3 separate regions of the Homo sapiens genome follow, and regions 1 and 2 are each linked to region 3. Evidence: fine-mapped expression QTL. A gene starts in region 3. Each other region holds a variant in brackets. All regions are shown on one strand. Distances are from middle to middle. Region 1 has its middle 32 kb from the start of HES1. Region 2 overlaps LOC102724877. Region 3 holds the start of HES1 (hes family bHLH transcription factor 1).

Region 1 (8,181 bases), 33 kb after region 3:
ATAAAGGTATAATTAATAGTGCTGGTATTTGTCTCTGAATCGTCTTGCTAAGGAACTGAACACTGGTGTGGTTTAAAATACAGCCTTGTAAAGGGCGTCTGCATTAAGTTCAGCATCAATATAGTGAACTTCTGGGAGAGGGGGACCACCAGGTCGCCCTAGGAGAGGTGAATCTGCCCAGATTGGAAATGGAGAGATCAAAACGTTCATGCTGATCAGTAGCGAGATTGTTCCTGTGAATAGCCACTGCACTCCAGCCTGGGCAACATAGCAAACCCCATCCCTTAAAAAAAATTAAGACCTTCTCTTCAAAAGACACTGCCTTGAGAATAAAAAACTTTGGAGAAAAAGAAAATAAATGGAGAAAATATTAGCAAATCACAAATCTGATAAGGGAATTGTATCCGGATTATATGAAGAACTTGCAAACTCAATAATAAAAAAAGCAAACCAATTAAAAAATGGACAAAAGATTTCAACAGACCCTTCATCCCAAAATAATATGATGGCAAATAAGCACATGAAAAGATGTATACCATTGGTCATTTGGAAAATGCAATTGAAATCATAATGAGATACGAACCCACCACACACACACACCAGACTGTTTAAAACTGAAAAGACTAACCATGCCAAGCATTGGCAAAGATGTGAAGTAACTAGAATTCTCACATACCGCCGGTTGGAATATAAAATGGTACAAACTATTTCAAGAAATGATTTCTGAAGAAGTTAAACATATGCCTAACATGTGATCCAGCCGTTTCATTCATAGGTATTTACCCAAGAGAACTGAAAGCATATGTCGATACAAAAGACTTGTACATAAAATATTCAAGGCAGCTTTATTTGTAACAGTCAAAAACTGGAACAATGCAAATGTCTATCAATAAGTGAATGGATAAACAAAGTGTGATATTATCCATCCGATGGATTACTATGTAGGAATACAATGAAATAAACTACAGATAAATGCAACAACATGGATGGATCTCAAAATAATTATGCTCAGTAAAAAAGGCCAGAAAAAGAAGAATATGTCCTCTATGACTCCGTTCTTTTACAATTCTCCAAAATGCAAACTAATCTACAATGACATAAGGCAAATTAGCTGTTGCCTAGAGACTGGGGGAGGGAAGATAGGGTGCCAGAGAGGCAGAAAGGATCCTAAAGGGATGTGAGGAAACTTTTGAGGGAAGGGATATATCCACTGTTTTGATTGTGGTGAGGGTTTTACAGTTGTACACATAGGCCAAACTTATCACTTGCATACTTTATGTGCAGTTTATTTCATGCCAATCACACCTCAATAAAATTTAATATTAAAAAATAGATGTAGTATGTCATCTAGGAGCTCAGAGTCATGGTCTCGCTAAAGAGACGCTACTCAAAGAGAAAGAGAAGGGTTTTTGTCTGCATGTTTGTTTTGTTTCAACATCATCTAGCCCAGCATTGCCCACAATCGTCACTCAACATCCGGCCCGACTAACTTACAAGGCACTGCTGTCCTTACAAGTGTCCACACCTGCCATTTGATCATCTGGGTGAGAGGAGGGGGTCAATATCTATCTAAGTCTAATTTCCTGAGGCTTGTATCAGTTGCTTCTGAACTGTAAGTGGCCCTTTGGGGTAGAATTGAAAGACTGGTCCACAGGACCTTAGAGCTAGAGGAGTCCTAGGGGTCTTCTGGTCCCACCTCCATCCAGTGCAGCATTTAATCCACTGTACCTTGGAGTAACCTCCATCTAGTCTCTGACAATGTCTCCTGGGAAACTCCTAGTATTCACCAAAAGTCAAGAAACTAGCTGCATTCCAATGGGAAGAAGCCAGGGTAGGAGAAGAGGAAGTAAGAGAGCTGTCCCTGAAACCCACCAGGATCTTTATCCCTCCTTTCAATGAGGTTCCTTAGGAATCTCACAGTGGGAGGAAATCAATATCTTTCAATAGACCAGTGCATTTCCTTTGACCTGTGAAGGAGGGCTGGGGAGAAGGGGAAATGAAAGGATTTGATAAATGAGACACATTTGCCAACAGATTCTTTTTTAAAAAAAAAAAGAAAAAAAAAAAGCACTTCTGACTGGTTGGGCTAATTCAGTTTGGTTGGAGTGGTGTGTATGTTAGCTCTGACATACTTTGGGAACATCTTTTAATGTTTCATTGCCTTTGCTTTCATAATTGTGTGCATTTAGGACCAAGAGCCTGGGTTTCTTCCTTCTGATTAGCAACAAGATTCCTCACAGCTTTAGGGGTCTAGGGAAAGAAAATAAAAAAAGCCCTGCATAGCCAGACCAGGACTGTATCCTTTCTGCTGCTCCTTCACACCTTTTCAAGCTTGGTGATTTCAGCTACTTCTCCAAATGTAATAATCTTTTAAACTGTCTACATTCAATCTGTTCCCAGGCAGGAGCTTAAACTACCCGCCCGCTCGCCCGCCCCCCGCTTTGGAAGTTTATCGGACAGATCTACAGAGGCTTTTCAGGGAGGATGTTTACAAAGGACTTTTAGTGTTGCCAAGAAAAGAGAGAGAAGGGGAATGATGGGATTTCTGTAGGGCAGTTTCAGAGGTAGTGAGATTTTAACATAAAAAGGACCTTTCTTTACCTCCTAACACGTCCAAAGGCAGATGGCAACAGGGGCCAACAGCGTCCTTGTGGGCGGGGTCCCTCCTAATCACTGGAGCCAGTGGAGTTTTCCTGTTACGTTAGAGTCTTGGGCTCACTTATTACAGCTGGAACCATCCCAGAGATGAGAGCCTGTAGCTCCACGCTGCCCCACTCCTCTGCTTCCTGTAGAGTCCCTTTCTCTCATGGGGAAGGGAAGGAGCTTCTTAAAACGTAATGCTGTGCTTCATAACACTCGTAGCTATAATACATAACTGCTGCAATAACCATGTAAGAAAAAATGTGTTTTCTTTGGGGAGGGGGAAATTCTAGAACATGCCAATCACCACATCTAATAAATCATGTGACGAAAGCACAGGGCATTTTGAATATAAGTTCGGTAATATCAGAATGATTTTGAAGTTGTGTGTCTGTTAAGGTGTTTACAACTCCGAAAGTCCTAATTGTAATAAATTTAAATGCATTTGGTATTTGGTTTATTAAGCTTGGATTCATTATGTGAGACATTTCCCCCCCGTATTCAAACATACATCAATACAGAGCTAGCTCTGGAGAACAACTTTACTTAACAAATCACTTTAGAAGCTTTTTTTTTTTAAACATCCCAGAAAAATACTGCTGCAGCCAGACTTGGGAAACAATTTTTTTTTCTGATAAGGATGACATCATTTTATCCTAGTAAAAGCTGAGTTTTCATCATCATAATTAAGCAGGAGAGAAATGATTCCCCGTGAACTGCATGACAAGCTGTGTAACTGTAGTTAATTTTAATGAACAAGCTCCATTTTTGAATTGTTAATCTCCATTTCTTTCATTTTAGTCAAGACTAAAACTTAATGAATTTCAACAATGAGTTTCCCCCTCCCCTTTCAATGAACTCTTACATTTCAAGTACCTTAGAGAGGAGAAAATGAATTTATCTCATTTTTTTGAAGCTGAAGTCTTCAATTGTAAGAAGAAAGACTCTTCATTCATGGCAGCGTCTCTGTGTGATGAAAAAGAAAAATCTAAAAGAGACCTTCTAAAGAAAGTCCACTGCAAAGTGAGTGGGAGGTAGAGCTGTGTGTTGGGAGGAAGGGGAAGAGGTTGACGTTCAGCCGG[A/C]AATTTCTACAGGGGTTCAATACATAGGGAAGCCTTCAAGTTATGTAATATATTAGCATGAAGAAATCCTGGGCACCAAGTTTTATATTTCATGGCACTGTTGTCAGCAGAACAAACACACACATTTTTTTTTTGTTTTAATAAACAATTTTTAGAGCAGTTTTAGTCTCACTGTATTGTGTGTGTTTTTTTTAAAGAAGAAAAAACATGTGTCTCAACACATTGCCAAGAAAGAGCTTCCAGAACAAAGAGCAGCAGTAAGATAATTATTGAATATCAAACAAAATCCTGGAGCAGGCTTAACTGACCAGGTTACTTCCACCCACCACTGGGTGGTAGCATGACTGAAACCTTCATTCCCAGGTAAATCCTCAAATCTCCCCCATTCTCCGCAGGTCACTGATGTCCCTGTTTGGGGTGTGTGTGTGTGTGTGTGTGTGTGTGTGTGTGTGTGTGTGAGTGTGAGTGTGTGTGTGTCTTTTGAATCACTAGAATGCTGTCCCGATTGAATGTGATCTGCAGCCATCATGACAGAAGGTATTGTTCTGACCTTTTCAATCAACAGTTTTCAATCTAGGGCACACAGAGGTGGCTTAGACGGAGGTCACCACAGGGCATGTGGCCTGAACTATGGTCCTAGGCTTGAGTTTTAGGACACCACAGGATATGCATAATCAGCAAAAGGAAATGAAATGAAAGTTTCCCTGTTAAACTTCAATCATGCACGTACGTCCTCTCCACAGCCCCACTGCAAAGGAAAAATTTAGGGTCGCCTGGTGTAGAGGGTCCCAACCTTCACTGCCTAGAACCCTTCTGGGCTACAAGTTTTAAAAGATCTTTGCCCACCAATAGGTTACTTTTATTAAATAATAATTCCATTTCTCATTTTTCATTAATCACAACTAGTCCCAACAGCAGCTACCTTTTATCGAAGGCTCACCGTAGACCTACCCCAACAGCACCCTGAGGTTCAGATTCTTGTCCTTACTTTACAGGTGAAAGCATCGAAGTTCACAGAGATCAAGTAGTTCCATCAAAGCCACTCTGCTAGGAAGCAGATGAGCACAGGCTTGACCCCAGATCTGTCTGCTGTCAAAACCCAGGCAATGAATCACAGTTCTATTTGGCCAGGCAGACCTTCTTGTTTGCATGAGGTAGTCCCCAGGGTTACCACACAGCCAAAAGCAAAGCAAGGAGGCATCTTCATCAGACTGTGCCACCCATATCCAGGCAAATGAAGGATTGCCATGAAGCTTTTTGAAATATTGAAAATTGCTCATAGACCCATTCTCTTTCTGTGGGTTCAGAGATAGATAATTGCTCGCTATAGCCCAGTCTCTCACTTACAAGACAAGGACACAGAGAACAGGGCTCCCAGCCCTCCTCCACCGTTAGAGACCCTTGGGAAAGGAGAAATCGTAGCTGGGCTTAGGGAAGACATTGCTCTATTCTTTACTTTTCTCCAATGCGAAATTACTTTCCCTGGAATTCTATTCCTCACTGCCTGAGAAGTAAAGGCTTCAGCCTCAACTAACAAATATCAGAGAATTATGTTTTTTTAAAAATGTCTTCGGTTGAATGATGTTACCAGTATGTGACCTGACGTCTCCAAGATTTTGGAGATCCCACATGCTGACCGCTTCTGGCCACTCCAAAACAATCTGGGAACAAAATCTGCCGGCCAAGCAATACAAAGAGCAAGCTGGGTCATCCGTCATCAGCAGACACCCTGACGCGTGCTCCCTCACACTGCAGAGGTGGGGGTGGCCTGGAAGAAGGGGTGCATTTCAACAGATCTTACTGGGATCGAAAACATAAATTAGTACTCAATCGGCTTTGAGATAAGTCCATTTTGAAAATAACATTTGAGAAGCACCGTGAACCCAGCTTCTCTCTTGGCTGAAAGGGCCCAGGAGCTCAAATTTCTGTTGACTGTGAAAGGCTGGGGGCTGCCCGGAGCCTATTTGTCTCTGTGCCCCCACGGTGCCTAATGTACAACTTGGCAGACTGCAGTATTAAGGAAATACTGGCTTTATTACTAAAAATAAAGCCCAGAAACTCCAGGGTTGGCAAGGCGGAGGGATGGGGGTTTGGGGAGGACACTGGGAGAACCCTCTTTCTGTATCTAGGATCCCCTTCTCCTGGGAGTCTTCTGAAGCCCACCACTCCCACCTTCATGGTGGTCTCAGGGAAGGGTGATACTTCCTCTTACAGGCTGGCTCCAGTGACCTTCCAGGTGCGGTCTGGAGCCTGCTGAGGGGAGGCAAGCATATTTAAAAAAAAAAAAGATTCCAGCAAGGAAATAAGAAGCCACAGAGGGAGGCGACTGAGAGACCCAGTGAATGTTGACAAGCTGGCTTTAAAATGGGGCTTACTTGTCATCCACCATGGGGCACCATGAACCTTGAGAAGCTGGCTTTAAAATGGGGCTTACTTGTCATCCACCGTGGGGCACCATGAACCTTGAGAAGCTGGCTTTAAAATGGGGCTTACAGATGATCCGCTGTGGGGCACCATGGGCCCTTTCACTGCCTCTGTGTGGAAGAGGACATATCTCACCCATATCCCCCAGCAGGGCTACCTTAGACCCCTACAGTTCTTCATGCCCGCTGGCCAAAGACACCCCTCACAAGTGATTCAGAAATTCTACAAACATGACAGTAAGCCTATATTTTTATAATACAGTTAGAAATGTTTTTTAAAAGGAAACAAGAAATAATATGCATGCTAATTGAATTATATTGCATTATTAAGACATGAGAAACCAATACCCTAGAAATCTATAACTCATTTTAGGGCTGACTTCAGAGCAAAAAGTTTATTCTCTCCATATACTTGAGAAGCGCCCTGGACTGCAATGCTACCCTCAGATAACTTTCTATTTGCAACCTGGAAAGGAAGCAACAAAACAAATGCAGATGTTTATCAGATGCAGAGGCTGATAAGATAGCAACTATCTCCCACTTCTACAATTTCAAAATGTCGTTAGTCAAAACAAACAACCTCCTGTTGAAATGTTAATAAATGTTATAAATTTGAACATACAAAATAAAGTTATGCCAGCTAAATATCACTTATATATATATATATTTATAGAGTTCCACATTAAACTTCATTTTTCCAAAAGACTTCTGTGTCTGAAAGTTCAAAAGCCCCTCTCTAGATTATTAAAGAGAGGTTGAGCCTTTTCACCTGTTCCCCAGCACCCTGAAACCTACCTACCTACAGATGTGTCCTCACCCTCGTAGCATGGTATAGGAAAATGCATTTCAATGCAGTTTGACCCAGGAGATACAGTCTTGTGCCATGTAAGTGACAGTGGTCTCACAGGATTATGATAGAGCTGCCCTATACAGGCCCATCTTAATCCTTTAGACTGCACTTTTACTGTACTATTTTTGTGTTTAAATATGTTTAGATACACAAATACTTACCACTGTGTTACAACAGCCTACAGTACTCAATACGGTAACATACTATACAGATTTGTAGCCTAGGAGCAATAGGCTAGATCACATAGCCTACAAGTGTGGTAAGTTGTACCATCTAGGTTTGTGTAAGTACACTCTGTGACGTTCACACAACAATGGAATTGCCTAAGCACGCATTTCACAGAACGTGTCCTCGTTGTGAAGCATTGAATGAGTGTTTTTGAGCTGAAGCTTTGTTGGGTAGGAAGGGGAAAAGGGAGATGGAGGCCAATACAATGAACATCTCAGTTCATGCTCACTGAGCCCTTTGTTGACTCCCCACTTCTCTCCCTTATGATAATTTTCTTGGGTTTGAAGAACCATTATCCACCTTCTAAAGCCAAACAGTGTTATGAGTTGAGTCAAATATACACCTACAAACACTGAGGGAGGACAGTCTTTGGAAGCGCTTTGAAGAATCATCTTCTTATGCACAGCAGCCCTACTGACTGCTCGGATTACTGGTCAGCACGCCTGCACATCAGGGCCTAAGTCTATTTGGGCTGCTATAACCAAATGCCCCAGAGCAGGTGACATGTCAATAACACAAACTGATTTCTCACAATTCTTGAGGCTGGGAAGTCCAAGATCAAGGCACCATCAGATTCAGTGTCTGGGAAGGGCCTGCTTTCTAGTTCATAGATGGTACCTTCTCACTGTGTCTGCCCCGTCCATCAGAAAAATTCCCAAGAAATAGTGGAAAAAGAGAACTCTGATCTCTTCAGCCTTTTATAACAGCACAAATCCCTTCCAAAGACCCCACCTCCTAATGCCATCATATCACAGTGGCAATTAAGTGTCAACATACAAATTTGGGAGGGGCACAAACATCCAGCCCATAACAGGGCCAAAGGGCCCTTCTGAACAACTGTACCAACCCTGTCAGCAGTGGCAAATCCAACAGGCTTACAGCAAACTTGATTCTCGCCTCCCCGGAGGAAAGAATTCATCTAAGGGGCACAAGGGAGAGGGAGAGACCATGACAAGTT
Region 2 (8,181 bases), 27 kb before region 3:
TCTGGAGCAGCCAGTTGCAGAGGGCCAGCCACAGCAGAGCAGAAAGGAGCTCTGAGAACAGATTCCTCCAGGGGCTTCTGTCTCCAGGACACCCTTTGGTACAAGACAAAGCAAACCTCAGAGGGGAACACTCAACTGCTGCTGGTGGATCCACATCTAATCCTTCTGACATCCAAAAGGAGCTAGTCTTGGTTTCCTTCTCGTGCATGCTTTGTGTCCCTGTCTAACCTCCTACCAGTGTCCTGTCCCCACAGTCCTCAGTCCCAGCCCCCTCTCCTGTCCGCTTCCCATGAGCAGCTTAACTAGCTGCTCTGTGCCGATTCTCTTCTGTTTTCCCAACGGAGGAACTTTGCACAGTGCTGGGCACATGGTGAGTACTCAGTAAATATTTAGTAAATATAATAAAAGTCAATTGATGTTAGCTCCAGCTCTAAGACATGTTAGTTCATTGTGTTAATCATAATTTTGTTTATAGGCGGGGCCAGAGAAGCCTCCTGAGATGCAGGTGTAGCAAAAATGCTGAAAATAACGTGGACCAAATCTCTGCAATACTGGCCCATTAATAAAGATGGTGAATGAAAGGAATGGAATATTTCAGTTATGTCCAATTCCAGTTCTAATTCCAATGGCACAGTGATGAATCCCAAAAAAGAAGCCAACATATCCTGGATACTAACGATCTAATCTGGATATGCAGACTCCTTCCAGAAGCTCCGTCACTGGCATCTCTGCTACCATCTTCCCTCTTTGGACTTCCCAATCCTCTCTGCACACTAGCGCTCAGCACGGTGGATCTCTCTACTTGTATTATGTCACACCCTTGCTCAAAAGCCTTCAGTGGTTTCCCCTGCATAAAATCTGCACCACCCGGCTCTCAGGGACCTTGTGGGTCTGGTTTGGCCTCAGCTCAACACCGCAGTTTTCCACTTCTCTCCAGAGCAACTGCTTCCCTCCGCTTTGGTCAAACTGGTTTCCTTACCCAACTCAGACAGCATACAATAGGGAGTGGGAGTAACGATAAAATTTGTAGCCAAAAAAGTCAGGTGTGAGTCTCAGATTCACCATCGGATCTCTCTGAGTCTAGTTCCTCAAGGGTAAAATGGAGATGATAATTATGTTCACTTTGTAGAGTCGGCATGAGGATTTTGTGATGTAATGGATGTTAAAGGACTTTACAAACTGTAAAGGGCCGAAGGACAGTTGTTCATCTCTAGCCATGGATTATTCCCAACTCCAGCATTGTCTTTGATCTCACGACTCACTTTCCCTTGCCCTTCTCCATATCTTACACCCACTCAAACCCAACTCCAGCCCTGCCACCCGTAGAAAGCCGTACCTGATCCCTCCAGTTCTCACTGATCCTGGCTTTTAAAGTCATGCCCATAAAGCATCTTGATTTGCTCACTGTATCTTACGCATGTCCGCCTTAGAACTCCAAGTTTATGATTATTTACCTACAGATGATATAAACATTCAGGTTGCTTACAATGAAAAAGTAAGTACATCTATAATAGCAAAGGTCAAGATAAAAAAGTGAAAAATCAGAAATGTCATTTTTTTTGCTAAGGTGTATTAGCTTGCTAGAGCTGCCATTCCAAAACACCATAGACTAGGTGGCTTAAACAACAGAAATGGATTTTCTCACAGTTCTGGAGGCTGGAAGGCCAAGATCAGGGTGCCAGCATGGTGGGCTTCTGGTAAGGGCTTTCTCCCTGGCTTGTAGACAGCCGACTTGACTTCTAGTTATGGCCTCACATGGCAGAGAGAGAGAGTGTGTGTGTGGGCAAGATGTCTAATTTCTCTTCTTTCTTCTTATAAAGGTGCTAATCCCATCATGAAGGCACCACCCTTAGGAATTCATCTAAACCTAATTACCTCCCAAAGGCCTCATCTCTAAATACTGTCACATTCAGGGTTCGGGTTTCAACATATGAATTTAGGGAGGGGCACAATTCAGTCTGTTGCAGGGAAAAAAAGGACAATTATGTCCCCTTTTAAGGGACTGGTTAAGTGGCTACTGCAGCTAAGTATCCTTGGAGGATAATCTTCATTTCCTCTTCTTCACATTTCTATACAGGGGAGACTTGCTCTCCCCAGAATATGAAGTAGGAGGGTTGGAGTGAGCCTTTCCCCTCTCTCTCCCTTTGGGGAGAAGGAATAACTAATGGGTGACCCGTAGGTGTTCACGGAGTAAGGGGCACCAGGAGACAGTCACTGCCTTTTGCTCCTTTGGGCTCCTCAGAGCAGAGCAGACACCTGCTTTCCAGCCTCTCTTGACTTCTGTGATAAGCCGCCTGCTCGGGGAATTGCCCCTCTCTGCCACCCACCACCACTACCAAACAGGATGGTCACTATTCTCCTGCTGCTTCTACTCCACTGGTTTTCTAGAAACAGGCCCATAATCTTTCCCTTGTAGTAGCTTGAAAAAGTGGACTCACAGTCTGCATGGCAGAACATGCCGATCCCAAAGCCTAGCTCAGGGAGGAAGTATGAGATCCCACCCCCTCTCCCAATACAGTGGTTAGAAGAGAGCCCTGACATTTTGGAAGCTTACTTGCCATCTGATATGGTTTGGCTGTGTCCCCACCAAAATCTCATCTTGAATTGTAGTTTCCATAATCCCCACATGTCATGGGAGGACCTGGTGGGAGGTAATTGAGTCATGGGGGCAGTTTCCACCATGCTGTTCTCATGACAGTGACTGAGTCCTCATGAGAGCTTATGATTTTATAAGGGGCTTCCCCCTTCACCTGGCACTCATTCTCCCTCCTGCCGCCCTGTGGAAAGATGCCTTCCACCATGATTTTGAGTTTCCTGAGGTCTCTCAGCCATGCAGAACTGTGAATAAATTAAACCTCTTTTCTTTATTTCTATTTTTAATTTTTTTTTTTTTTTTTTTTTTTTTTTGAGACGGAGTCTCGCTCTGTCGCCCAGGCTGCAGTGCAGTGGCAAAATCTCAGCTCACTGCAACCTCCGCCTCCAAGGTTCAAGTGATTCTCCTGCCTCAGCCTCCCGAGTAGCTGGGATTCCAGGTGCCCACCACCATGCCCGGCTAATTTTTGTATTTTTAGTAGAGACAGGGTTTCGCCATGTTGGCCAGGCTGGTCTCGAACTCCTGACCTCAGGTGATCGACCCGACTTGACCTCCCAAAGTGCTGGGATTACAGGCATGAGCCACCATGCCCGGCCCCTCTTTTCTTTATAAATGACCCAGTCTCAGACATCTCTTCATAGCAGTGTGAGAACAGACTAATACACCATCAATCCAGCTGATGCTCTGAAGTGCCTTTGGCCAATGGTCTTGAGCCTATTCTCAGTCACCCCTAAAGGGAAGGAGAGATGGCTTTAGACAATCCAGCAAGCACCAGTGTGAACTATGAGCTTCTTGATAGCCAAATATCACTGACAAAAAGTGGAAATATGGCTAACATGAAAGAGAAAGAAGACTATGGCCTGATAGAAGGGATGTTGAGTAACATAGTGAATGGGGTCCTCAAGGATGGCTTAGCAGAAGACATCAAGATGGCCAGCTTTTGTAATAGTGTGTAATAAAAACTAAGGGCAAGGTATTTGTTATTCAGTGTGAGAGATCTGGATTAATACCATTCAAACCTCTTGCTTTCTGCTGACCCAATCAGATATAAGGAAAAGGCTTAATTCATTGTCTCAATCATGTTCGGGGCAGGAAAGAAATATCAGACAATTTAAAATTAACCTTGTACACGACCATAACCATGAGAATAAAAACTCTTGTGACTCTTTGGAAAGTAATTTTACAATATTTATTGAGAGTCTTAATTATGCCCTTCTCCTTAACTAGAAATTCCAATTCTGTAAATTTATCCTAAGAAAAATAAAATGTTAAAAGTTTAGATTGTTAAATACATTAGGAAAATCATGGTACATAAATGATGAAAAATTATGCGGTCATTTGAAATGAAACTTATGAGGAATTTATGTTGCTGTAATGTTATATGACAAAAGCATGTAATAAGTTATATACAATGTATATATTGTACATACAGTGATCATAATCATGTAAAATCATAAAGAAAAGTTAGAAAAAGGGCAAATAATGAGAGTAGTTATCTTCTTTCACCTTATCTGTATTTGTCTATTTTTTTCCAGTAAGCATACATTATTTAGAATTGAAAATAAAATAAACTATAATTATATATATCATATATCTTATATATCATATATATGATATATATATATCTCTTCATACTTTAGATACCAGCCTGGAAGACAACGGAGCTGTCATTCTGTTAAAAAATTAAGAGAAGTACGCAGAACCTGCCTTTTTCTAAATGAGAAGCTTTGGAAGCGACTGGACACTTTTGGCCATTGCAGTCCACAGGTAGCCTCTCTGGGGGCAATAGACAGACTTTTTCACTTCTTGTATTTACTCCCCAAATGCTTGATTACATAGCTTGTCACCTGTCAGGGGGGCCAGCTAGCTAGTTGCTGGGTTGAGTGGTTAATCCAATGATTTGTATAGCTGGCTCACTAAGGAAATCATAGGTACTCAATATATAGCTACTGAACAATTCAATGAATGATTGAATTAGTTATCATTTAACCTATTGGCTGGGAAGTGCTGAAAGAATTCAAACCCTCTTAATATGCTTCAAGTCCAGCCTGCACTCTCTACCTTCAGGGATCCCTGCTGGGCCACTTGGCCCTTGCTCCTTTCTCCAGCAGAAATCATCCCCCCTGTACCCCTTTCTCCACTCCCACATTCCCTTATGGCCTGGTACAGACCACTGCTGTATTATCTGAGTCATTAGCATAGCCCTGATGC[C/A]ATTTGTTTATTTGTCTGACTTCCTCACTTGACTCTGAGCTCTCTGCAACAAGGTTTTGCATGTTGTTCAATTTAAAAAATCTGCCTCTAAGGTTATAAGCAGAGCCCAGGACATATCTATTCAACATGACATTTCATAGGGGTTCAGCAAATGTTTGCAAACAAACAAAAAAGGAATGCAGGACAAGGATATTTTGAGTACCAATGAGCCATCCAGCCCTGAGCTAGGTTCAGTCTCTGAAGGCATGAAGAAGGAACCACAGGAGAATTAACATAACTCTCACCACGCTTCATTGCAATCCATCGTTTACTTGTTTCTTTTCACCTGTAGATTATAAATGTCATGAAGACAGGGGCTGTGTCTGTCTTATTCACCTAACTAACCACAGCAACTCACACCATGCCATGGAAGGCACTCAAAAATTTTATGTTGAAGCGATAAGTGGATGGCAAAGGCACCCCAATTTTCAGGATTGATTTCCTCCAACTGTAATTAGTCACTGAGCAAAACAGCCCAGGCTGGAGTGCAGTGGTAGGATTATGGCTCACTGCAGCCTCGACATCCTGGACTTAAGTGATCCTCTCATCACAACCTCTGGAATAGCTGCAACTACAGGTGTGTACCACCACGACTAGTTAATTTATATTTATTTATTTATTTATTTATTTATTTATTTATTTATTTATTGAGAGAGACAGAGATCTCATTTTGTTGCTCAGATTGGTCTCAAACTCCTAGCTTCAAGCAATCCTCCTACCTCGGCCTCCCAAAGAGCTAGGTGTGAGCCACTGTGCCTGGCCCTCTTGCTTTCTTATTGAGAGCCAAGTATAGTTGGAGACTGGTGGAGGTTTTCTCTCCCCAGCAGAAGGTTACCTGGAGACTTTGGCAAGAGCCACAGCAGTTCCTAAAAGGAAAAGAAACCTCAAAGGAGAATGTTAATCTCCCCGATCAGGTAAATGAGCAACAACAGGTAACAAATAATTCACCCCAGTGATCCCTCAGAATTGCATGCCTGTCTTTAAATCTCCTTATACAAGCTGACTTCCTTAGAAAAAGCAGGTAAAATCAGAAAGCAAGAAAGCAAGGAAGGAAGGGAAGGGAAGGGGAAGGGAAGGGAAGGGAAGGGAAGGGAACGGAAGGGAAGGGAAGGGGAGGGAAGGGAAGGGGAGGGAAGGGTACGGAAGGGAAGGGAAGGGAAAAGAGAGAGTCCTTAAATTCTTGAGACAAATTGCAGTGGTAGGATTATGGCTCTATCTTGACATTTTGCAAAACTACATCCGAGCCTATCCTTTGCTCAGCTCTACGTCAGCCAAAGCCTCAGTTATAAATAAATTCACAAATATACGGAACGCTGGGCCTCGCCCCAAGGCCAACGTTCCTCGTTCATGTGTGCATTCACCAGCTCCAGCTCTCCCTGGAAACATCCTTTTCTATGTAACAGCCTAAATCATCCTAAAGAGGACATTCTCCAACATTAGCATACCTAACAATCAACACGGAGATTTCCAGGACCTGTTCCAGAAACACGGATTCAGTAGGTTTAGGGTGGAAGTTTGGAATCTGCCTTTTAACCAACTCCCTGCTATGGACTGAATTGTTTCACCCCAAAATTCATATATTGAAGCCCTCACCCCTAATGTGATGGCATTTGAAGATGGGGCCTTTGGGAGGTCATTATGTTTAGATGAGGTCGTGAGGAAGGGAGCCCCATGATGGATGGGATTAGTGCCCTCATAAGAAGACATGCCAGAGAGCTCTCTCTACTCTCAAGTACCCAGGAAAGGCCATAACAAGACACAGCCAGAAGACAGCTATCTGCAAGCCAGGAAGCGCCCTCACCAAACAGACACGGACCCTGCTAGCACCTTGCTCTTGGGCATTCAGCCTCCAGAATTGGGAGACGATCAATTCCTGCTGTGAAGGTATTTTATTAAGGCAGCCAAAGCTGACTGAGATACTTCCCCGATCACTGTGATGTCCAGTGCCGAGGGCCTATGCTTTGAAAATCAATATTCTAGTCTTAGGCCAAAACTCTCCTCCCTGCTTCCCCAGCCACTCCTTGAGCTTTCTTCTTCCTCATGGCCCTCTCGGCCATCTGGACAGGCTTCTTCCTGGATACAAGTCACATGAATGTCACTGACCTGTGACTTTGTCTTTGTTTCCTGAGTGCATCACACAGTACATGGCCTACGGCAGGCATTCAGAAAATATTGATTTCATGAATGAATAGGTGAATGAATGAGTGAGCAAATGAATGAATTTATATCACATAGAATAATTAACTTCCCTTTTAGTATCTCCCTAATCCTTCCAACTCTAACTTGAGGAAGCTATGACTTGCTTTCAAGATCATTTTCCAGGCCTGGCGCGGTGGCTCACGCCTGTAATCCCAGCACTTTGGGAGGCTGAGGCAGGTGGATCACCTGAAGTCAGGAGTTCAAGACCAGCCTTGCCAACATGGTGAAACCCTGTCTCTACTTAAAATACAAAAATTTGGCAGGCTTGGTGGCCGGCGCCTGTAATCCCAGCTACTTGGGAGGCTGAGGCAGGAGAATTGCTTGGACCCACAAGGCGGAGGTTGCAGTGAGCTGAGATCACACCACTGCACTCCAGCCTGGGCAACAAGAGCAAAACTCTGTCTGAAAAATGAATAAATAAATAAATAATAGGATTATTTTGCATCCATTCTATTGTTTTGTGGGAATCTTTCACAGTCATTGCCTGGGAATCCAGTGATGAAAAGTGGCCCACAAATACAATCTAATGGAGGCCCTCAGGTTATTCACTAAAGCTCAGAGAAGATCATTTTCCAATCAGAGACATCCACAAGTGGAATGGTGCTAGAATCTTCCCTCCCCTGCAGGAAAGCCCTGGTCAGCCAGGTCAGATGTGGGCAGATGGTTTGCTCTTCTCCACCGAGTACTGAGTGAAGCCTTGGGCTGGAAATCCAGGTAGGGAGGTTAAGGACAAATTTGGAATTAAAACACAATAAGCCCCTTCATTCCTTCCCCATTCACATCCTCCATTCTTAAGGCTGGGAAAAAAAAAAAAAAAAAAGACCCCTTACTTCCTCATGCAAGACTGCCCCCAGGCTTAATCAGAGCCTTAACTGCTGTCTTTGGCTGTGTTGTAAGCACAGTGACAATGATCAGGTTAGGTGTTTAGAACAGTATGATGTCAGTCGGGCTTGTGATGAAAGAGTCGCTGACAGACAGTGCAAGCCAACACCATGAGAACAGCTCAGGCTATGAGGTCATTCAGTCCAACAGGTAGGCAGGTTTGTTTTCTTAGCCCTGACATTCGATGCCCTGCCGGTTATTGAATAACCAGAAATGAGGCGACTCCTACAAATTCCTGGATCTCCATGGGGATGGAG
Region 3 (8,181 bases):
AGTTTAGGAGCTTACTGTCCCATTTGAGAAGGGGTGGGGAGAGGACAACGTTGGTCCTATTTTCACTGCCTAGCATAAGGAAACTGAAAAGTCATCTGTGAGCCCATCTGCAAGAAACTCTTCTTGAATGGTTAGAGTGGAAAGCCAGAGAGTTCCTGGAATTTATTTTTATTTATTATTTATTTATTTTTGGTCCAGACACAAATTCATAATTTTTTTTGTTACTTGAGCCTCTGTCCCCCTATCTAAAAACGTGTGTGTGAAAGTTACTTGCCCATTCCACCAGTCCAAGCACTCCCAAAGTGGCAATAAACGAGTTGCTGATTAACTATTTGACCCACGAGGCTGCTTTAGCCCCTTCAGTGAGACCCTAACTTGACCATATTCCATTCCCCATGCACCTTCAGGGCACCAAATAAGAGTGGGGAACAGAATCAGATGAAAAAGTCTCTTAGAATGGGCAGGGAGTGGCATAACCCAGTAGTTAATGAGGGCCGACCAGCAGACAGCAGTCAATGTCATGGCAGAGCCTGGCAGAGCCTAGCAGAGCAGGCACTGGTTCTGAAAGATTTGGGGGGAACCTGGAAAGGGTTAACATGCTTCCCCGGGAAGGGTTTAGTTCCTCAGAAGAATCTGGGTCAGTGTATTTGGGAAGTTTTTAAAAAGTCAGACGCTCAGTAGAAGCATTTTAAGAAGCTTGCAAAGCTTATTGGGGCCATGGCAGAAAGGAGGGTAACTTCATAGGCTCATCACCTTTCACCAAGAGGATTTTCACCACACAGGAAAACCCTACGTTTTCCAAAAGCAACAGACAATTTTCTGTCATCACCACTTTTCCATCTGTTTAAAATAAGAAAGAAAATTCCTTCCCCTTTGGCCCAGGTTGCAGGTCAACAAAGGAGGCATTGTTCATCATTTCTTCAGAACATGACAGGGCACAGCTCACTCTGCAGTGTAAGAAAACATTTTTTAAAAAAAATCTCAGAGTAGCCTTAGGGGCAACAGTGAGTAAACCAAAGCCTTCGATGAGGGAAATGTTTGGTTGCAGACTGGAGGACTATCCTGGAAGGTGGAAATGAGGCTTAGGTTAATACGGTCAGAGCCATGATTCCTTAGTTAGACTCAGGAATTAAATCTGAGTTCCTGAGTTCCTGGTTGGGGGTTGGGAACACTGCATTAAAGGGTAGGCAGGTTTGAGTTGAACTCAGTTCCCAAGAGCGTGCGGTCAATGTCCAGAGGAGCTGGATGTAGACAGATGCCTCTGGGAGTCAGTCTGCACCTGCCTCCTAGGAACCTTCTTCACTGGCTTGAACTGCCTAACTGCCCTTTCTGCCTCCAAGCCCTGCAATCCACTCTCCCACTTTTGCCAGAGCCATCTTTCTAAAGGGAAACCCTGATGCCTCTTCTTTGCTCAAGAATGTTTCATGGCTCTCCACTGTCTAAAGATAAGGTCCAAAGTCCTTCAGCAAGATGTTTAAGGAGCTTGTGACATGGCCTCAAGCTGCCTCTTCCAGTCCCTCACATTCCCTAGGCTCCAGACCATGTTCCCTGAATAAAGTCTTCAAGTTCCAGGATCTTGGCCTTTAATACCATGGGTACCTGCATCCTCTCCAGCCCACGACTAAGCACATTCCCAATGCCCCAATCCTACCTATTTTTCAAGGTACACAGGCCAATCCCTCCAGGAAGTTTTCCAAGGTACCCCAACTTAAAAGTAACTTAATTCTCCTGAAACTCCATAGCATTTTACCTCTATCCAGACATACGTCTCTCTTGAACCTACGACTTCCCAGAGGAATTTACTGGGCCATCCGTAGATGTCAGCTGTACACGTTTATATGTATCTCTAGACTGTTAGCTTCCAGAGAGCAATAACGGTCTTACTCACTGCTGTAAACCCAGGTAGACCAGCAATACTGTTATCCATACAAGTATGGTTTCATATTTTGTTTCTGTCCTCCTGATCTCTCAAGCCACCACCTAACTCAGAAAAGAAAGGAAAAATAAAGGAATGTCCAGTCATCAATCAGAAAATCAGCGTCTGTCTGCCCCCGCAGTTTACTGTCAACTTCTAGCAGGCCGCCACTGTATCTCTCACCGTGGAAATCCCAGGGTTTAACACAGTGTCTGACACTGCGCGTGTGTTCCACAATGAAAGAGAGAGGGGGGCTTGCCCAAGGTCACCCAGAGTCAGGAACCACTGAATCTCATCCGGGACGAGATCTGGCGAAATCATTGACAACGTTATCTCAGTGGGGAGCTGGGAGGCCGGAAGGAATGAAGTGTCTGAGAACCGTGCGCCAGGCCTCCGGGACGCGGGAAGGGCTGAGGGGGCGGGAGGCCACATCAAACAAGACGCTGGGCTCCCGGGCTGCCCGGAGCCGCGAGCCGAGCTCCCAGGCGGCGGGAAGGGCGGAGGGGGGGTGGGGGCACGGGGGCCGGCGACCCGGGCAGGCGGGAGGGAGGCGGAGGAGGCGGCCGGCCGGCCCAGGCAGTGCGCGCCGCCCGCCCGGCTCGGCAAATCCCCCAGGGAGGCCGCCGCCAGAGCCCTGGCGCTCCCGGCCCGGCGCCCGCCACGTGGCACCCGGCGGCGGCGGCGGCGACTCCTCCCGGCGCGCGGCCCGGCCAGCAGGCAGCACGCAGCCGCCCGCGCCGCCCGCCTCCTCCCGGGCGCCCGCCGGCGGCCTCCCGGGCGTAGTGAGGGGGAGCGGCCCGGCCGCCCGGGACCCGGGGAAGGGGCGGGCGGCGCGAAGCCGCTTTAACCGCAGTCGCCGAGCGGAGGCAGGAGGCTGACCCGGCCGCTTCCTAAGTGCGGTCAGGCATCCCGTGACCGCGGCGGGCGCCCAGGGCCCCGCGGGGAGAGGGCGGGGGCGAGGAGCAAACTTGGAGGCCCCCACCTCGCCCCCGGGCTGTTGCGAATGCGGCTTTCGGCCGAGTGAAAACCCCAAGCCCGAAAGTGAGGGTGGGGAGGCGGGGGTTGGAAGAATTCCCCACTCTCCACCCCGGGTGTGCGCTCCCCGCCGGGAAGAGCTGACCTTGGCCTGGGGAGGCGGGGGTGGGGAGAGAGGGTAAGCGCCGGGGCTCGGCTCCCAGCCCGCCGCCCCCTCGGATTCCTGGCCCGGCGGGGCCGGAGGAGGGGGCCCCGGACACACACACACACACACCCCCCACACGCAGCGCGCGCCAATGAGCCCGGGCCAGGCGCAGGGGGCGGGGTTTTCCCAGGCTCGAGCACAGCAGCTGCTATTTACCTTCTTGGCTTCTCCCGGGGACCAGGAACCGGCCCCCGCTCTCCGCCGCCCGTCGCCGCCCCCCGCCTCCCTGCCCCCGGGGCGCGCGCACACACACTCACTCACACACGCACGCACACACACATCCTCCCGGCCCGGCCGCAGCCGCGGCGGCAATAAAACATCCTGGCACGTGCTCCGGCTCCAGGCGCGCCCACGCCGGCCGGCTGATGTCAAACTGCAGCTCGGCTGGTGTAGCTCTTAAAGGGCCCGCGGGCGCCGGGGGCCGAGGCCGCCCGCGGGGCGAGGAGGGAGAGGCTGCTTCCTTGCCCGCCACCTCAACGCGCCGCAGAACCTAAAGCCTACGGATGAAAAGGGAAAGGGTGGTGAAGGAGGGCGCGAGTCCCTGAGTCATTGCCCTCGGAGCCCCCCTTGTTCATTTTTTCATTTGAAATACCGTTTCCTTCCACCCAGTTGGAAATTATTCTGATTGTTTCCTGGGGAAGCCCGGGGTCTAAGGCCCCAAATCCAAACGAGGAATTTCTGAAAGACGGGGTGGGGGTGGGATTCAAGAACTACCTTGCTCCGAAAAACCTGCATTTGTGAGGTAGAAGGCAATTTTTCCTTTTTCTGCATGGAAACAGGAAAATTTTTTTGGCCCTTTTCCTTTACCATCTACTTTCACCCTCCTGAATGTAAAGTCTGAGCGGGAACTTTAGATGTGTCGGTAACTCACATTCTTACACCCGTCCCCCCCTCCCCCCGCCCCCTTTTAACCACTGCTGTTTTTTTCTTTATTGTTTATACCTTTAAAAAAAATATGTTTCAAATGAACTTACTACAGTCAAAGCAGCTCTGTTACATATGAGAGAGGGCATAAAGAGCAAAGACCCTGGCTCCAAAAGAAATAGACAAGATCAAGACCAAAGCGGAAAGAAAAAAAAAATCTCTAAACCAAAGCCCAGAGGGAGAGTAGCAAAGGGTTAAAATCCTTTTGATTGACGTTGTAGCCTCCGGTGCCCTGGGCTCAGGCGCGCGCCATTGGCCGCCAGACCTTGTGCCTGGCGGCCAATGGGGGGGCGCGGTCCACGAGCGGTGCCGCGTGTCTCCTCCTCCCATTGGCTGAAAGTTACTGTGGGAAAGAAAGTTTGGGAAGTTTCACACGAGCCGTTCGCGTGCAGTCCCAGATATATATAGAGGCCGCCAGGGCCTAGGGATCACACAGGATCCGGAGCTGGTGCTGATAACAGCGGAATCCCCCGTCTACCTCTCTCCTTGGTCCTGGAACAGCGCTACTGATCACCAAGTAGCCACAAAATATAATAAACCCTCAGCACTTGCTCAGTAGTTTTGTGAAAGTCTCAAGTAAAAGAGACACAAACAAAAAATTCTTTTTCGTGAAGAACTCCAAAAATAAAATTCTCTAGAGATAAAAAAAAAAAAAAAAGGAAAATGCCAGCTGATATAATGGAGAAAAATTCCTCGTCCCCGGTGGCTGCTACCCCAGCCAGTGTCAACACGACACCGGATAAACCAAAGACAGCATCTGAGCACAGAAAGGTAAGGGCGGTACCTGTATCTCTTTGCAGCCCCTCAAAATTAAGTAGGGGTTGGGGGGCTTCTTTCTGTCTTGAAACCCCGGGATGGCAGATTCCATGGGAACACAGAACTCTTTTTTTTATTTGCAGTCATCAAAGCCTATTATGGAGAAAAGACGAAGAGCAAGAATAAATGAAAGTCTGAGCCAGCTGAAAACACTGATTTTGGATGCTCTGAAGAAAGATGTAAGTGGGGAAATGCTGCTCGCTCTTTTAATTAAAAAACAAACACTTTCTCAGCTACTAAGAGTGAAACCCCCCGCCCTGCGGGGTCTGGCACTCGCTGGTACTGCGTTCTCCCAGGCGGGAGGGCCCGGCCTTATTCGCTGGGGTCCAGAGATAATGCTTGCGCTCCGTGGCCGGGAGGAGGGACCCCCAGCACTCTGAAGCAGCTGACACGGGGCTCACTTTCCTTTCTTGCCTACTCTATGCAGAGCTCGCGGCATTCCAAGCTGGAGAAGGCGGACATTCTGGAAATGACAGTGAAGCACCTCCGGAACCTGCAGCGGGCGCAGATGACGGGTGAGGGCGGCTCGCCGCGTCCCCCTGTGCGGGCGTCCCGCTCGCCTCGCGGTGATTTCTTCCAGACTTCCGCCCGTGGTTGTGAGAGGCATTCAGCTACATTTTACTGCCTTGGCTCACTCTTGCGTTCCCACGGTCTGGGGCTTATTTATAGCCACAACTCCAAGTTGTTACTGTTCCGGAAAGGGAGGGAAAGAGGTTGCAGCCGCGAGGGTGGCGGGCGCCGGGTAGGGGCGAAAGGACTTAGGACTGTGGCGGTTTGGAACTGCGTGGAGCCTGGGGGTCACTGGTTTAGCACTCCTTCCCGTTGCAGAAGGGGAAATGAGGCTTGGATGATGGATTGGGAGGCATTGTCCAAGGTCACATCGCGCGCGGGGGTGGGGGTGACAGATCTGGGGCTGAGATAGGTTTAAATGCAGCTACAGGGAATCGGGAAGGAGTGGCTCGGCTTTTGGCAGCAACGCTAGTGTGGAGAGGTGGCTGGTTTTTTCTAAACCCATCTCACCCTCCCTGCCGGAGGCAGTTTCACGGGCGCATGGTCAGGGAGGCGCGCCACAGGGACCTCCCAGGGCGGAGGCAGTGGCCACGGGGCCAGGGCCGTTCGGTGACCCGTCTGTCTCTTTCTGGCCCGCAGCTGCGCTGAGCACAGACCCAAGTGTGCTGGGGAAGTACCGAGCCGGCTTCAGCGAGTGCATGAACGAGGTGACCCGCTTCCTGTCCACGTGCGAGGGCGTTAATACCGAGGTGCGCACTCGGCTGCTCGGCCACCTGGCCAACTGCATGACCCAGATCAATGCCATGACCTACCCCGGGCAGCCGCACCCCGCCTTGCAGGCGCCGCCACCGCCCCCACCGGGACCCGGCGGCCCCCAGCACGCGCCGTTCGCGCCGCCGCCGCCACTCGTGCCCATCCCCGGGGGCGCGGCGCCCCCTCCCGGCGGCGCCCCCTGCAAGCTGGGCAGCCAGGCTGGAGAGGCGGCTAAGGTGTTTGGAGGCTTCCAGGTGGTACCGGCTCCCGATGGCCAGTTTGCTTTCCTCATTCCCAACGGGGCCTTCGCGCACAGCGGCCCTGTCATCCCCGTCTACACCAGCAACAGCGGCACCTCCGTGGGCCCCAACGCAGTGTCACCTTCCAGCGGCCCCTCGCTTACGGCGGACTCCATGTGGAGGCCGTGGCGGAACTGAGGGGGCTCAGGCCACCCCTCCTCCTAAACTCCCCAACCCACCTCTCTTCCCTCCGGACTCTAAACAGGAACTTGAATACTGGGAGAGAAGAGGACTTTTTTGATTAAGTGGTTACTTTGTGTTTTTTTAATTTCTAAGAAGTTACTTTTTGTAGAGAGAGCTGTATTAAGTGACTGACCATGCACTATATTTGTATATATTTTATATGTTCATATTGGATTGCGCCTTTGTATTATAAAAGCTCAGATGACATTTCGTTTTTTACACGAGATTTCTTTTTTATGTGATGCCAAAGATGTTTGAAAATGCTCTTAAAATATCTTCCTTTGGGGAAGTTTATTTGAGAAAATATAATAAAAGAAAAAAGTAAAGGCTTTTATGTCTTCGAACTGATTCTTCCAGAATATGTAAAAAGGCTTTTGGTGGAATTTGAATTACATGTAATTGGTAATTCAGGAATTGACTCTTTTGTTATTAAAAGAACATTTGTAAAAATCCATCAAACTTTTCACCAATCCTCCATGAACTAAAAAGACTAAATTCCATTTACTTTACAAGCAGCCATCTGGTAAGGCTTCCCTGATAAACTTGTGGTCAGTCTCTTAAAGGATTTCCAAAAAAAATGTTTTTAAGTTGCAGTCGGGTAAGTCTGCAGCCCTTGTTCTTCTAGCTCCTCCTGAGGAAGATTGAACAGGACTAAATTCACGAAGCTAATGGATCCAATCCTATTGCCCATTGCACGTTAAGGGTGGTTCCTGCAGCTCTCCTCTCAGGGTAGCTCACCAGCATCCAAAGCAAAAACACTTCCAACTGCTGCGCCTCCTTCAAGACTTGGGGTCTTCATTAATTAGCCAATCCTTTGGTTCAAATAAGACGTTCCCTAGCACCCAAAAGTTTCCTCTCCGCACCCTCTTAAAGCAAGCTGAAAAGGTCAACAGATTCCTTCTGCCAAGGGACAGTTAGTTAGACTCCCAAGTGGAGGCCGAGCCCAGATGATTAACACCAGACATGTGTTTTTGATAAGTTTCTGTGCTTGGCTCTAATAGAGAAAGCATGTGGGGGCTGTGCTGGCAGGCACACAGGCCATCTTCCCCTTTTAATACAAACAGCAAGCGACCCCTTCGCTTGGTCATGCCCCATTTCCAGGCAAGATGTGGGCTCCAGATAGAAGCAAAAGGGTTGTCTCGGGTTTCAGCTCACATAACCCTCCTTAACAAGTCCTAACTCAAAGCGGACAGCTTTAAACTGTGCCAGGATCTGCAGGGAATTTCTTCCAAATCCCATCACAAAGGCTTGTCAGATTTTGTCAGATTTGGCCAGGTGTTTGACTGCATCCAGGTGTTGGGGAAATGAAAACCACGAGCCCTGCGAGACCAGACACATCAGCCGCGCTGTGGGTCTGGCGGGCGCGCCCTCCTCCCCCACCGCCGGCCAGTCCTCCTCCCCCCCGGCCCCTCCCGCCAGCCTCCTCTAACCCCCCTTTTCTTAGACCGGCTTCTGGGAGGAGAAGGATGAGGCGGGAGAGATCAATCTTTGAAGCTTTCCTAACAAAGATAAAGCCAACGATTTTCTGTCTTGTTTCAAAAGCTTTACCTCTCCCCCGCCCTGCTCTGGCCTTTCCCACAGGCCAGTGTGGAGAGCGGCTC

Evidence for each region. PIP is the estimated chance that this variant, and not a neighbour inherited with it, causes the effect.
Region 1: its variant is fine-mapped to the expression of HES1 in whole blood (TOPMed, PIP above 0.99).
Region 2: its variant is fine-mapped to the expression of HES1 in whole blood (TOPMed, PIP above 0.99).

Annotation. Positions count from the first base shown.
Region 1 is chr3:194,164,360-194,172,540 of GRCh38, forward strand. No RefSeq gene overlaps it. Among named protein-coding and RNA genes, the nearest start is that of HES1, 32 kb to the left of the region's middle. The variant A/C (reference allele first, on the strand shown) is at 3,723.
Region 2 is chr3:194,104,622-194,112,802 of GRCh38, forward strand. It overlaps LOC102724877, which reads left to right. Exons shown (of 6, transcript XR_002959666.2): 5 at 4,234-4,360. Among named protein-coding and RNA genes, the nearest start is that of HES1, 27 kb to the right of the region's middle. The variant C/A (reference allele first, on the strand shown) is at 4,805.
Region 3 is chr3:194,131,699-194,139,879 of GRCh38, forward strand. HES1 (hes family bHLH transcription factor 1) reads left to right here and starts at 4,450. Exons shown (of 4, transcript NM_005524.4): 1 at 4,450-4,790; 2 at 4,919-5,014; 3 at 5,263-5,350; 4 at 5,985-7,034. The coding sequence starts at 4,683. The coding sequence ends at 6,535. RefSeq lists silencers at 2,528-2,807, 2,878-3,417, 6,144-6,343 and enhancers at 4,408-5,607, 4,417-4,576, 6,374-6,563.